Homo sapiens: one gene and its partner. The protein of the gene in region 1 interacts with the protein of each later gene in a pairwise test. Each region holds a gene or a part of one and is shown on either strand. Other genes may lie near its edges.

Region 1 (7,028 bases):
ATACAAAGGTGGTGACAATGTCTACCTCAAGGGTTGTTATGGTTGGACGAGTTAATATATATGAAGAGCTTGGGACAGTTTCTGCTTTATGTAAGTGCCTGGCACCACCTAAGTATTTGTGGCTGTTGTTACAAGCATTATCATTATAGCAGGCAAGCAGTAAGTATTTGTGGGAAAAGTGAATCCTTGTGCAACAAATATTTACTGCTCACCTCTGATGATAATAATAATAACCTAAAACCGTGGTTCTCAAACATCAGTATGCATAAGAATCACCTGGAGAGCTTGTTAAAAATGCAGAGCCTTAGATAACAGATTCACCAAGTCTGTCATAGGGCCAGAAATTCTATTTCTGAGACTGGTGTCCTCTGTCTATACTGAGAGTAACAGTCCTTTGGAAAAGTAGATTTGCCATCCTGGACTTCTATACTTCCTTTCCCAACGACAGACAATTGTCATCTGCTTGGCTGACAAGACCCTACCACCACATTAATTAACTTAATTTGGAGATCAAGATAAGAAAACAACAGTGGTAGAATCAATAGCAACAGAGCATTGCAGTAGCCACACAGCTTTTGCTAATTCCCAGGCCTTACGCAGAGTTCTTCATGCAGATGTGAGCTGGAGAGGTTTCTTGGATTGATTTGCAAGGTTGATTACTTCACTGTATTTCCACACAAAGGTTTTCATGGGAGATGTGTTATGTGCCCTCACTCTGATTGTTCTCATCCCAGAGTTGGAAAAATTGGTTCTAGAGAGGATCAACCAGTAGGGTGATCCTCCCACCGGCTCACCCACCAAGTCCATTCAAAACCCAGAGGAGGACCAGCCAGACGGTGTCTTGCTGCTTCACTAAAAACCCTTTATGTTGCATCTTGGAAACTGTCTGAGCCCAGACACTGGCAAGGAGAGGGTTGAGTTTCCCAGACAGCATCAGAGCATGTACCAGGCAGCCTGAGCTGGTATGGTCCTTGGACAAGAGGAAGCAGCGGGCCAAGTCCCATGCTCTCTGCCTGTGATGTCCACCCAATCTGGCACACCTGCTCCACCACTACCTTCCCCATCACAGTGCCATCTTTTGGTTTTTTTGGTTTGTTTTGTTGTTGTTGTTTTGTTTTTGTTTTTGTTGTTGTTGTTGTTGTTTTGAGACGGAGTCTGGCTCTGTCACCCAGGCTGGAGTGCAGTGGCACCATCTTGGCTCACTGCAACCTCCACCTCCCAGGTTTGAGCGATTCTCCTGCCTCAGTCTCCTGAGTAGCTGGGATTACAGGCGTGCACCACCACGCCTGGCTAATTTTTGTATTTTTAGTAGAGATGGGGTTTCGCCATGTTGGCCAAGCTGGTCTCGAACTCCTGACCTCAAGTGATCCGCCTGCCTCGGCCTCCCAAACTGCTGGGATTACAGGCATGAGCCACCATGCCCAGCCCCATCATTTCTTTGTAGCATTTGTTTTGTGCCAGGCATGGTGGGAAGCCTTTTTCTTGCATTATTGCACATGTAATTCTTACAACAGCCCTTGGATGTAGCTACTACTCAAGACTCCATTTTACAGATAAGAAGACAGGCTCTTAGGTCAAATAATTTCTTGGTGTTGCACAGTTCGCAGTGGCAGAGCTGCATTTCACATCTTTATGCCAGGATGTGTGGCTCAGCAGGCACATGACAGGCTAGATTCAGACCATCCCCATGGTGTGAGCACACTGTGGGGGGATTTTCTGACAAAAGAGATCAATTGGGGTATGATAATTCAGAATTACCTGGGAATCTCCCTGTCATTAGACATTCCATCCCTCCCCCAACTAAACGCCAGCAGCTCCCCACCCTAGTCATTGAGATGACCAAAAAACGCTCCCCATTTCCAATCCCCATGCAAAGCACAGCTCAAGTGTCCTCCCTGTGTCCATCAGAAACATGGGTGGTTTTGCTGTTTGTTTTTAAGATTCTTAGCACAAACATGGTTTCTGTGACCAGCAACCAGAAACCTGCGAGGTCCAGTGGAGACGCAGCTATCCTTCAACCTCCAAGGCCCTGTGCCATCAGCTCCAGGAGAAGTTATGAGCAACAGCTGACTGTCGGACAGACTCTTTAATCTTCCAGCCCTTTCTAGACAGGGCCTGTCAAAGGAAGGTCCCTTATGGCCAAAATTTCTTTCCAGGGAGTCAGCTCAGACAGCACAGTTGTCCCCAGAGAATCCTAGATTTAGATTGTTAATGCTTGAGGGACTTAAGAGATTATTTTTTCCAATCTCCTCCATTCACAAGGCCTAGAGAGGTGGAGTCATCTACCCCAGGGACACAGCTCACCAGCATCCCAGCTGGGGCTACAGTGCTGTCTCCAGTGTTCTCTCAGTTCTGGCCACCCTGCTGTCAGAAAACTAGCCATTGTGGAACTCAGGAGCACCATGAAGCACCGAAACGATGTCATTCGAGGGTGTATCAGAGCAACTAGGGATGCTGCGTGTCCAGAGCAGGGGCCTCAGATGGGCAGGACATCTGCCTATCACAGTCGCAGGGCTGTCAAGTGGAAGAGGGCTTTGCCTTGCTCTATGTGGTCCAAGCGGTGACATCAGGACCAGTGAGTAGAAGGTCCAAGACCACAACAGGGTTTGACTCATTCTAAGGATGAGCTCTGTAATAGTCAGAGCTGTGTGGCCAGGAATGGGCTGCCTTGCAAGGAAGGAGTCCCTGTTGCAGGAAGTGCTAGTGAAGACAGAAAAAGACACTGGGTGGGAAAGCTGCAGAGGGAGTCAGCCTCTGATTAGGGGACAGATTCCACAGCCTTAAAGATGCCTTCCAACCCTGCAAGACTTTTACCCAAGGTGATCACCTGAATCTCCCTCTCCCACCCCCAACGCAGGGGTCCTATCCTCTCTCATACCCCACGACTGCGGGAGGGTCACCCTAGTAGCAGGGTGTCCACCAGTCTCGACTCGGCAGAGTTTTCAGAGATTCCAGTGAATACTGTGACCTTAAATGAGGTCACATAAGATGGGACTGTGCCTACTGCTCTTCCCACAAAAGACTGTGGATTCCCTGCAGGGAGAATGTCCCTTTGGGGGAGTTGGTCCAGAGGACTATGGACTACACTTGCATCTAAGAACCTTGGAGGGGAATGGGAGGAGGGAGAAGAGGTAGGCTTCCTCCCACTCCCACTACCACTGGGGCCTCAAGGGATCTGCCAAGTTTGCTCCAGGAAGACTATTGCCAGCCTGGCTGTGCCTCATCAGCTGTTCCCCATGATGCTGAAAAGCAAAGCTAGGAAAATTCTCCATATGTTGGGGCCCACGGAGGGGGAGACAGCCACAAACAGCTGTGAGACCTTCATCGTTCCTGTATGATGAAATGACAGTAATTATGCCTCACATTTCAGCAGAGCATTTATAAGGCTAAAACGGGTTTGCTGTGGTTTTTACATGTGTGTGTTCATATGTTGCCTCATTCTGTATACAAAGCACTGTCACATGATGTACATTTTTATGCCTCTTATTCTTATTTATGCACATATACAGTAACAACTGCTCTGTAGGATAGCCAGGACGGGGGTAATTTTGCCCATTTTACAGATTACGAAATAAAGGCACATGAACCATTAGGCAACTTGCCCAGGTAAGACAGGCTGAGCTTTGTTTTTTAGGTCCATGGATAATGTTCTTTCCAACACACAGACACACATACACACATGCACGTGCAAACACACATGCATCTCTTTAGAATCAGTTTAATGGATATGCAACTAACTAGCATTTGAATAATTGTTGTTAATGAAGATGGTGACCTTGGAAACTGTTAGTGCAAGCATCATGTAGAGACAGGGCACAGGGAGTGGGGCAGGGCAGCTGAACGAATGAGGGGAGTAGCAGCTGGAGTGGCATGGGTGGTCCCCAAGGCTAATGCTGTTCACTCTAAAGCAGCACAGGACAAACATCTGTTTAACAAGGCACACAGGCTGTGGAGCCCACAGCCTCCCCAACATGTAGGATCCCACAGGCCATGGCCTGCCATAGGCAGCACTTGACCTCTGGGTTACATGCTGCTTCCCTGTGACAGACTAGGTCATGGAAGGAAGAGCAGTCCCAAGGTCACAGGCTGCCAAGAGTGTTCTCTATATGCAAAACTGCCTGAAAAATAGAGGTTCATCTCAGCAGGGAGAGACACAGAAATACATCCAGCAACAGTTATGAGGGCTCCCTCGCTTTGTGAGGAGTGCTTACGCAGGCTTTATGGCATGAACTCCAGAATAGTTCTTACTCTGGCCAACCGTGGTAGAGATTTAACAACCAACCCCAGCCTTCCTTTGGCAGATATGAGACCAACCTTTGCCTCACCTCAAATCCAAGTCTGGAGCCAACTTCAGCCCTCTTCATTTCCACTGATGGCCAGGGGAAGGAAGTGTGCTGGGCACCCCAGGGACACTCAGGTGACCACATGGCCTCAGCCATGTGGAGTCCTACATGCTATCCAGCTAGGTGACGGATGGAAGGAGTTGACGTCCCCTGTCCTGGCCACTACTCTGTCTTTCTTATTGTTATAAAGTCTAAGCCAACTGGCTTGGCCAAAAATGTGGCTGATTAATTCAACTGCTTAGGGAAGGATCTGATGATGCATTCTGGAGAGGGGGCAGGGAGAGGAAGGTAGAGGCAATGCAGAGGAAAAAGTAGAGGTCTAATGTTTATTGAGCACTAACTATGTTCTGGCTACTTGATATGCATTATCTTCTTTAATCTCATTTCATAGCTGGAGAAAGTGGGGCTCAGAGAGGCCCAAAGTCACATGGCCAGTAAGTGCAGAGCCAGGATGTGAATGAAAGATTTGCCTTGACTCCAAATTTCTACCACACCAGTGGGTTGCAACCTTTCTTATTTTTCATTCTACTCCAATATATGAAATTGGATAATGAATAAAAGCTCTGGTTGAAGCTCTGCCCTCTGGCCCTCCCCCTCTCTACCTCTGTCCATCCCCTGAGGCTCCACCTCACCCCTTAGGCCTCCATACCACATCTCTTGGAAACCTCTGTGGGCTCTGGTGGGCCAGGCCCCTTCTGGATCAGTGGATATGCAGAAAAATAATCTGGGAAGGCTTTGGAGCTGCACCTGCCATAGTAGTATCCTCTCAGGGCCCTGGAAATGCAGACAAAACCATTCCCGAGGCCACACTCCCACTGCAGCATCCCAGCTGGCTCGCTGGGAGGGGCCACTCAGCTCTCCTGAAGTGCTCACTCCTCAAGCATCACTCCAGGCTCTTGACACGCCCTTCCCTCAGTGACTGTAGTGCCTGTCCTCCCTCTGCCCCGCCATAACCAACCCACATACCTGAAGCTGCCCTAGGGGAGGTGGAATGAGAAGCTGGTGCTATATCTTTCATCTCTCTGAAGCCACGACCACCTCCCAGGCTAGGTGGTGACAAACCAGGAGGGTGAAAGAGCATTCTGCCTCACTTCACACCCCCATGCCATCAGCAACTACCTCACTACCTGCTGATGGCAGCCCTAGGCACCCAGCTCCCTGCATTCTAGGGGTGCACCCACCAGGAATCTAATGCGGGCCCTGGATTTCTATAGCTAGTTTGCCCCTCTCTTCACCCTCTTCTTCCTGCACCATGAGAGGAGCAACCCACATCCCAAGTTTGGTCTACCTTACGGTGTCTTGGCCCATTGCTACCCATCCTACCCCAATATCCCCAGTGCCACTGTCTGTCCTTGGATAGGGGTGGTGGGAGCTCTGGGGCTGCCTTGCCAGATGGTGAAGCCAGTGCTGAGCACTGGAGGCACATATGGAGGCAACAAAATGTAGGAGACAGAAGCATTACCAACAGCAGTCCTTCTCCCAGCTCCTTCCCCACCCCCTTCCATGCAAGGAGGAAGCCAATGACTGGCTGCTACTGAGGTTGAGGTCAAGATGCTACTCACAGAGGGCACAGCTTTTGGCCTGGCTAGGTGAGCATGCAAATCCATATGCAGATTATATGCAAATCTGGGGTGTGCCCTTGGGTTCCTGGCACCCTGCCATCGCTGCTGCCTGTAGCTCACCCTATTCATGCACCTGGGTACCCGCTAGAATCGACTGGGCTGGGAGCTGAGAAAGTGCTTCAGGAACTAGGGGATCTTCTCTTGACTACTTCAGAGGTCCCCCAGAAAACAACTCCTCCAAGATCACGGAGGAGGGAAGAAGCTCGCAGCCTGGAACTCGTATCCCTGCAGAAAAACTCTCTGAGCATCTGCCCTCCCCTCTCTTCATCTACAATTAAATCATCCTTCACCAGCCAGAGCAGGGTACCAAGCAAGTGGCAAGTGGCAAGGATGTGTCTTCTCTAAGACACAGAGAAGGTCAGGAAGGCTTGAGGTCTGCATCCCTCTGTCATAGGCTAACAGTCCATGGGGTGCTCTGGACAGACCTTGACCCTGTGTCTGGGGGCTCCTAGCCAGCCTGTTTGGGGCCTGCTTCCCTACCAAGCTCTCCCTGGGCCAAAGCCCTGTCTGCTTGCTCACATCCTCTCTGATCCTCATCCTAAGAAAACTAAGCCTCTCTGTCCAGTCCCCCGGGATCTGTTCAACTTAAGCGCCGCCTTTGGGTCTACTGCTTACTTGTTTTTTGTTTCTAATTAGCTCCCCCATTCTACTGCAGAAATATATTAAAGGCAGCTGGCTTTGATGCCCAGAAAAACGAAGCGTCGGAAAGGCTTGTCGGGCATCATGGCCCTGCCAATCTCCCTCATGTTATTCTAGCAACCGGGGTCTCTCTGCCACTCAGCCCCTCCCCAGTATTCACTGGCCCTTCGCCTGCCTCCCCTAAGTTGCGTTTGCCATTTCAAGATTTTAAAAACACATTTCCCCATTGCCCCCCCCCCCTTTTTTTAATTAGACACTGAACAGAATGTTGGAGATTTTCTTAATGCCCTGACGAAGGCTTTTAATTTGGTCTTCCCAAGAGAGAAGAACCATGAGTCCCCATCGGAGAAGTTGGGGTGGGAAATGAAAAAATCAATGCAATCCATTATTTTGGCTTTTAGAAAACAGGAATTTTAGTGCCGGG
Region 2 (7,028 bases), on another chromosome or scaffold:
TGGCCCTAATGCTTTATAATTGATGGAAGGGTCTGATGAACTTTAACCGCCTCTGACAGAATGCTAAGATGTATGGGGAAGGGTAGGAGACTACTGTTAGCTTCTCTGCCTTCTCATTGGGTCTGGGTGATTGAAGGGTCCCCTCTAGCACGACACTTTGTAGTGGCTGACCCCTGATTACTCCCTGACAGACTGGTGCCCCTGCATTCTAGTCATTGTTAATGATCACAAACATCCATAATCTCCCTCTCCTAACAATAATCCAGGAAAACGAGCTGGTCTCAAAACCATATTTCTTAGGCCATTTATTGGATTTCATTGTTAACATTTTATTAAATAAGTCATTTTGCTTGGCTGTTATCTTGGGAAAGTTCTAGCTGAATAGGAAAAATATCAAAATATGCTACTATGCTTTCCCTTATCTAATTGTCTTGCATGGTACATTTTCTCTTAATATATGTGAATTGGCCAGACAGGGTTTTCACAGTGCCATCTTTATAACCTAAATTAGAGTTAACCTCTCCTGTTTTCTTAGAAAGAGTATTATCTTAAACATCTTCCTTAGAAATTAAACTCAGTGAATGGGAGGTGGGCCGTGCTAAGAATTTTATGAAGATATTCTCTGAATCTCCCTCTTACTTTACTTAGAAGTGCTGCCTTGTATTGTATTTCTATTTATCTTCATCTCAAAGTCAATTTGTGTCTTGGTGGTGGAGAAAAGGGCAAAATTGTTTAAACATAGGACTAACTAAGGCTCTTCAGTTGATATTACTATAAACTTTTTTCTAATTTAAGTTAAATATGTTTCAACCAAATACACATTGCTATGAAAATGAATTCCTGTAACTGTAAATCTGCTGTGTCTTTGATCCTGCCACCTATACAACTATAATCAGTTGACATATCCATTTCAGATATCAGTTTTATGAATTAATCAACCATCTGCTTTTTAAAAAATACTAAGTAAGGCTCTTTTCCATTTCAGAAAACAGATAAAAAGGAAAATGCAGGAAGTTTGGAGGCCATAAATGAGCCTATTCCTCAGCCTATGCCTTTTCCACCGAGCATTATCAGGTCAGGATCCCCAAAATTGGATCCTTCTGAGGTCTACCTGAAATCTAAGACTTTATATGAAGATAAACGTAAGTAGTTGTGGAATATTTCAGGAGAGCATATAACAAGATAAATTTGGATTTATTTTAGACTAGGACCTTCCCATCTTTCAGAAGCATATTGAAAAGTTATTCCTTCATTACCATTTTAATAGAACTCTGGACTTCTTCCATGTATATTCGACATTCACACATTCATTTTTTTCAAAATCATGCTTTAAGTGCTAGTTATCTACCAGATGCCATACTAGGTAACCAGAATACAGAGATAAATAGGTTACATAGGACCTGCACCCAAAAATATTATTAGAACTAAATGGAAAAAGACAAATATGTAATCAAATAGTATACAAATAAGTACACATAATAAGCCTAACAGGTACAGTGATAGAAAGATGAAATGGATAAATTGGGATCCAAAGAAGGAATATTCAGTTTTATCAGTGTGGGCAGTAGGAAGTGTCAGGAAAAGCTTCATACTGGAAGCAAAGCTTTAACTAAGTCATCAGGGATGAAAAAGTGTCTTTGAGGAAGATAAAAGGGAAAGATAGAAGGAATAGCACATGCACACTGGCCTTGCATGACTTGGGCTCTGCAAGTAGTTCACTTTCGCTGGGTGCAATTGGCAAGGAAAGTCACAGAGGAGAGCAGGAACAGATTGAGGAAGGCCAATGATGCCCTTCCAAGGGAGCTGGAGTTGGTCATATAAATAACAGAGAACCACAGAATGCCTTTAACTATAAGGAAGGCATAGTTTTGTGTTTTAGAAAGGTTTTTCTGGCAGGAGTATGAAGGATGAATCAGAGGTGTATGCAATTTGAGGGAGGGTGTGCAATTTGAAGAAGAAACTAAAGAGTTGACTCCTTACAGGAGTCCAGCTGAGAGATAAAAAGAGAGACTGCATAAGGCAGAAATTCATGCATGTTCCTACTAATTCACTTACTAATGATAAATCTTTTCCAAAGTAAAATTGCAGATTTGAGTAGGTATAATTTTTTAAAATTTATTTGTTCTTAGAAAGAGATGTAAATCTACCTTGGAAAAGATATGTACAAGTGGAATATATGTATAGTTGACTTAATGCTTATTTAACTAGTTGCAGAAGTACATCTTGATAATCCCAAGCCATATTCAGAAAGATGAAAACCAGTTGTACGCCCAGCAAAGCAATAATTTAAATTAGCATAACAATGTAGAATCCCTTTCTTCATACTTTCCATTCATAGCCTGATACATTATTAATACTGGTATAAACTCTGCAGTCCCATCAGGCTTCACCCATAAAATAAGTGAGTTGAACTGATGACTCTTTTTTTTTTTTTCCCCTGAGACAGAGTCTTGCTCTGTCACCCGGAGCTGGAGTGCAGTGGCACAATCTCAGCTCACTGAAACCTCTGCCTCCTAGGTTCAAGCAATTCTCCTGCCTCAGCCTCCTGAGTAGCTGGCACTACAGGCGTATGCCACCATGACTGGCTAAGTTTTGCATTTTTAGTAGAGACGGGGTTTCACCATGTTAGTCAAGCTGGTCTCAAACTCCTGACCTCGTGATCCGCCCACCTCGGCCTCCCAAAGTGGACTCTTTTAATCTCTAAAGTTCTACAATTTTAATAGGAAGTATATATCAAAAGATACTGCTTCTATAGAATATTATCAGGAATTTACTAATCTCACTTTTTACATAGTTCCCTGACATGTTTATTTCTTCTCTCTTTACAGTAAATACTTCTTACCTATAAATAACATTAATATTTTCCCAAAGGAAAAATTTTAGTCATGAAATAGATTTTTGTGACTTAATATTCTTTTTTTTTTTTTTTGAGATGGAGTCTTGCTCTGTTGCCCAGGCTGGAATGCAGTGGCACGATCTCAGTTCACTGCAACCTCTGCCTCCCAGGTTCAAGCAATCCTCCTGCTTAATATTCTAAGGAATACAACCTACCCTTTGAGGGTAGGACAGTATGAGTTAGGAGATTAGACCCTGGAAATCAACCTGGATTTAAATCTTAGCTTCACCACTTGCTATGTGACAATGGCCAACTTACTTACACCCTCAGTTTTCCCACCTAGAAAATGGGGCTAATAATAAATGTTAGCTCTTAATTATTTTCCTTTAAAATGCTATCATTTTGCAAAACTAGGCTAGGTAAGTAGTTCATATGGAATACTTTTCTGAGAGAAAGGTATTAGCTTGAGAGCAGGAATAAGGTATTTTACAGGCACTCTATACAGCAGTGCCTGTACAGATTTAATGTACCTTACCCAAGTGTTAACTTAGGTCATTTGCACCTGTCAAATATCAAACTCAAGTTTGATCATTCTGAATTCAACATTGTTATATTGATTGGACAGCATTAGAAGTTAATGGCAGTGTAATACTGAGTATATGGAAGTGAGAGTAAATGTTTCTAAACAGTCTTCATACAGTTTTGTTTAGAGCTCAAAACGAGGATTTATAGTTGAATTGTGTGTGTGTGTTACACTCTTGTGCAAATTTTCCATATTAAAAAGTTCTGAGATTATAGTTTATTGAGTTACTCTATAATATCCTACTAAATACTGAACTTTGTTTTGTTTTAATCCTTTTAAAATAAATCATAGTATTTATATTTTCTGATTTTCCTCAGCACCAAACACCAAAGATTTGGATGTTTTTCTTCGAAAACAAGAGTCAGGGTTTGGCTTCAGGGTGCTAGGAGGAGATGGACCTGACCAGTCTGTAAGTGTCACTTCTTTGGAACATGGCTGTTTCCTGTTCAAACGTTTTGAGTGGTGATTTGGTGGATTATGGTGTGTTTTAAGTTTTTTTTTCTCTGACAGTTTCATTAATATGAAGAATAACTGCATTTCCATTATTATCATAGTCCCTCAGTTATTGTGGTGTAGCTGAGGCTAAAAACTGTGGGTAAAAACTGAATATGTCAGCTGCAAATTAGACAGTGATTAATTTATTTACTTCTCTGTGTGAATAACTACATAAAGCTTATTTTAAGTTTATATTTTCCTTTGCCCTCATTAAACAGAGTCTAAGACATTTTCCTTCTCTAAGAAGCCTATAATCCCATGTCCTCTTTCCCACTATTACTCTATCTTCTGGATGCTCCATAAATGGTTGGCATGAGCCTGTGCATATTGTTTCACCTCGTCTTATTAATAGGTTGGCATTTTCATGCTCAGTACTTTGCATGTCATTTCATCTGTTACCTTTGAAACTAGAGGAATATAAAATAATTAATATTTTTGTCCAGAGGCATAAGGGTTATATTTGCAAAGCATTTGAAGTCTAGGATTTTGTTTACACATGATTCTCACATAAACTTGTTTTAGAGAACAAATGTAGTGGGTTTTGTTTCTAAGTTTTGCTCTTGGTTTGAATAACAAAGAAGTAATGTGTTCTGTAGCATTTTTAAGAACATATTTGCATTTTATTTTATATAATATCAATATATTATATATCAAAAAATATGGTTGGAAGTTAGGTGAAGAACAATAATCTTTAAAAATTACAGGCTTCTTATTTCTGAATAGAACATTTGATTTATGTAGTATAAATTTGTTCTAATTGGTCATATTGGTTACAGTTACAACAGTCATTGGAGACACATAAAGCTTAAGGCAGGTTGCCCTATGTAGAACAAATACTAGATACTTTAATTGTTCTTGGTATTTGTATTTTTGTTTTATTGCTTCCTATTTTGTTGATACTCATAATGTTCACTTAGACATTTTAAGAATTTGTCTCAAACAACTTAGAAGAAACCTTTCTTTTCTCTTAAATGTCAGATTTTAGCAGCTCTGAAACTAGCCTAAACATTCAGGATTGCCTAATTACAGGATTCTAATGCTGGTGAGCAAAATGAACCAGATTTGTTCACCTAGATGCAAGTGAAGCTTCAGGCCACTCTGTTCCCGCTGAGATTTAGAAACAAGAAATGTCTCTGTGCTGTGTATATTGAACTTGTACCGTTAGTCATATGTGATGGGAGTACTGTTGAGAATGATCCCAGTTGCTGTGAACAGTATGTAGAAAATCTTGCCTGATGACATTGAACAGACTTTTAATAGCTACTCTGCAGATTTATATTTTCTGAGTTTAGTGTTTTGTTTCATTGTAATGATAGGGATAATGGTTGTGCTTTTTGAGTTATCGAACAACTTTGTATTTTCTATTTTCTTTGTACACAGCCCTGAGGATCTATAAGGGATTACATAATACAATGTGGTTATTTGAAGTGCCATTTTGGAGAATGGGCACTTTCTCAGATAATACCTTTCTAAAATATAACTGTTTTCATAGTTGAACTGCAAAAATCTGTTGGTTTGCACAATGCTAAGTTAGGAATTCCTTAACTCTTCAGCTAAACTTTACACTGTGGACCAAACTGTACTTTGTTATCTTATCAGATATATATTGGGGCTATTATTCCCCTGGGAGCAGCTGAGAAAGATGGTCGGCTCCGCGCAGCTGATGAACTAATGTGCATTGATGGAATTCCTGTTAAAGGGAAATCACACAAACAAGTCTTGGACCTCATGACAACTGCTGCTCGAAATGGCCATGTGTTACTAACTGTCAGACGGAAGATCTTCTATGGAGGTGTGTGAACTTGTTCCTGCTCTGAAAAGTTAAAAAAGAAACAAAGATACTAGTCTACTTCCTGTGTAGTTTTGCAGGTTATTTTATTACATTCAGTAGTATCTAAGATAACCCATTTGGTGTGATCCAGGGCCTCACTGTGGAAGGCTATGCAAACACAAAAGGATTCAGAAATAATACTACTATAAAAAAATAAATTTTGGGCTTCTATATTAAGATTATTTTCATATATTGATGCATTTTGCAAATGTATTATAGGTGGGAGTATTGATTTAAATCCGGTTTTGTTTTGTTTTGTTGAGTTGAGGTAGAGTCTCACTCTGTCACCCAGGCTAGAGTGCAGTGGTATGAGCTCAGCTCACTGCAACCTCCACCTCTTGGGTTCAAGCGATTCTCCTGCCTCAGCCTCCTGAGTAGCTGGGATTACAGGCACACACCACCACACGGCTAATTTTTGTATTTTTAGTAGAGACGGGGTTTCACCACATTGGCCAGGCTGGTCTCGAACTCTTGACCTCAAGTGATCCACCTGTCTCAGACTCCCAAAGTGCTGGAATTACAGGCGTGAGCCACTGTGCCCAGCCTAAATTTGTTTTGTTTTTTTTTAAATAACAAATACAAAATTATTTAGTCATACCAAGATATCCCACTAGCTGAATATACAAAGATTTTTGGATCCCAGTGAAATCTGAGCTACTAAAGGAAAGTAGGATGTTTCTACTTGAGAAGTTTTAGTATAATTTAACATTTATTGAGTGCTTACTATGTCCTAGATGCATGGATTATTTTATTTAATCTTCACAACACTATGAGGTCATTATCTAGTTCTATGATTACTCAGAGAAAGGTTGAGAAACAAATAACTGGTAAGAGGTAGGGCCTGGATTAAAAGTTGCAGTTTAATTCAGAGATCAGGGTTTAAACCATAGCATTAGGATATGAATATCTCTTATAGTTTCTCGCCAGTAGCTTTATGAATAATTAAATAGAAATTCTTATAAGTGAATTCTTTCCACTTTAAAATTAAAAAAATACAACTCTGTAGCACAAGAATATAAGCCTCATGAAGGTATGAATTTTTATTTGTGTAGTTATCTGCTGTAAGCTCGGCACCTAAAAGAGTGCCTGTCTGGTACAAAGTGGACATTAATAAATGTTGTTAATTGGATGAATATTTACATCACTCTTAAAAATGAGGCACTGTATTTTTTATTGCAACATTCAAAGTAAAGGCCTGCCTCCTTTGGTAAATACCAGGCATTTAGAATGCATATAGATTGTAATGCAGTACTGCCTCAATTTGGTTGTGTTGGAGGCCAAAT

The links. The genes of interacting proteins can lie anywhere in the genome.
Region 2: the proteins of DSCAML1 (region 1) and MAGI3 interact in a two-hybrid assay, tested with the Homo sapiens proteins (one study listed by BioGRID and IntAct).

What each region holds. Positions count from the first base shown.
Region 1 is NC_000011.10:117,787,200-117,794,227, forward strand, and holds part of DSCAML1 (cell adhesion molecule DSCAML1 isoform 1 precursor), read right to left. Parts: intron 1-7,028. UniProt on the Homo sapiens protein: Cell adhesion molecule that plays a role in neuronal self-avoidance. Promotes repulsion between specific neuronal processes of either the same cell or the same subtype of cells.
Region 2 is NC_000001.11:113,645,501-113,652,528, forward strand, and holds part of MAGI3 (membrane-associated guanylate kinase, WW and PDZ domain-containing protein 3), read left to right. Parts: intron 1-985; coding exon 986-1,142; intron 1,143-3,736; coding exon 3,737-3,828; intron 3,829-5,513; coding exon 5,514-5,706; intron 5,707-7,028.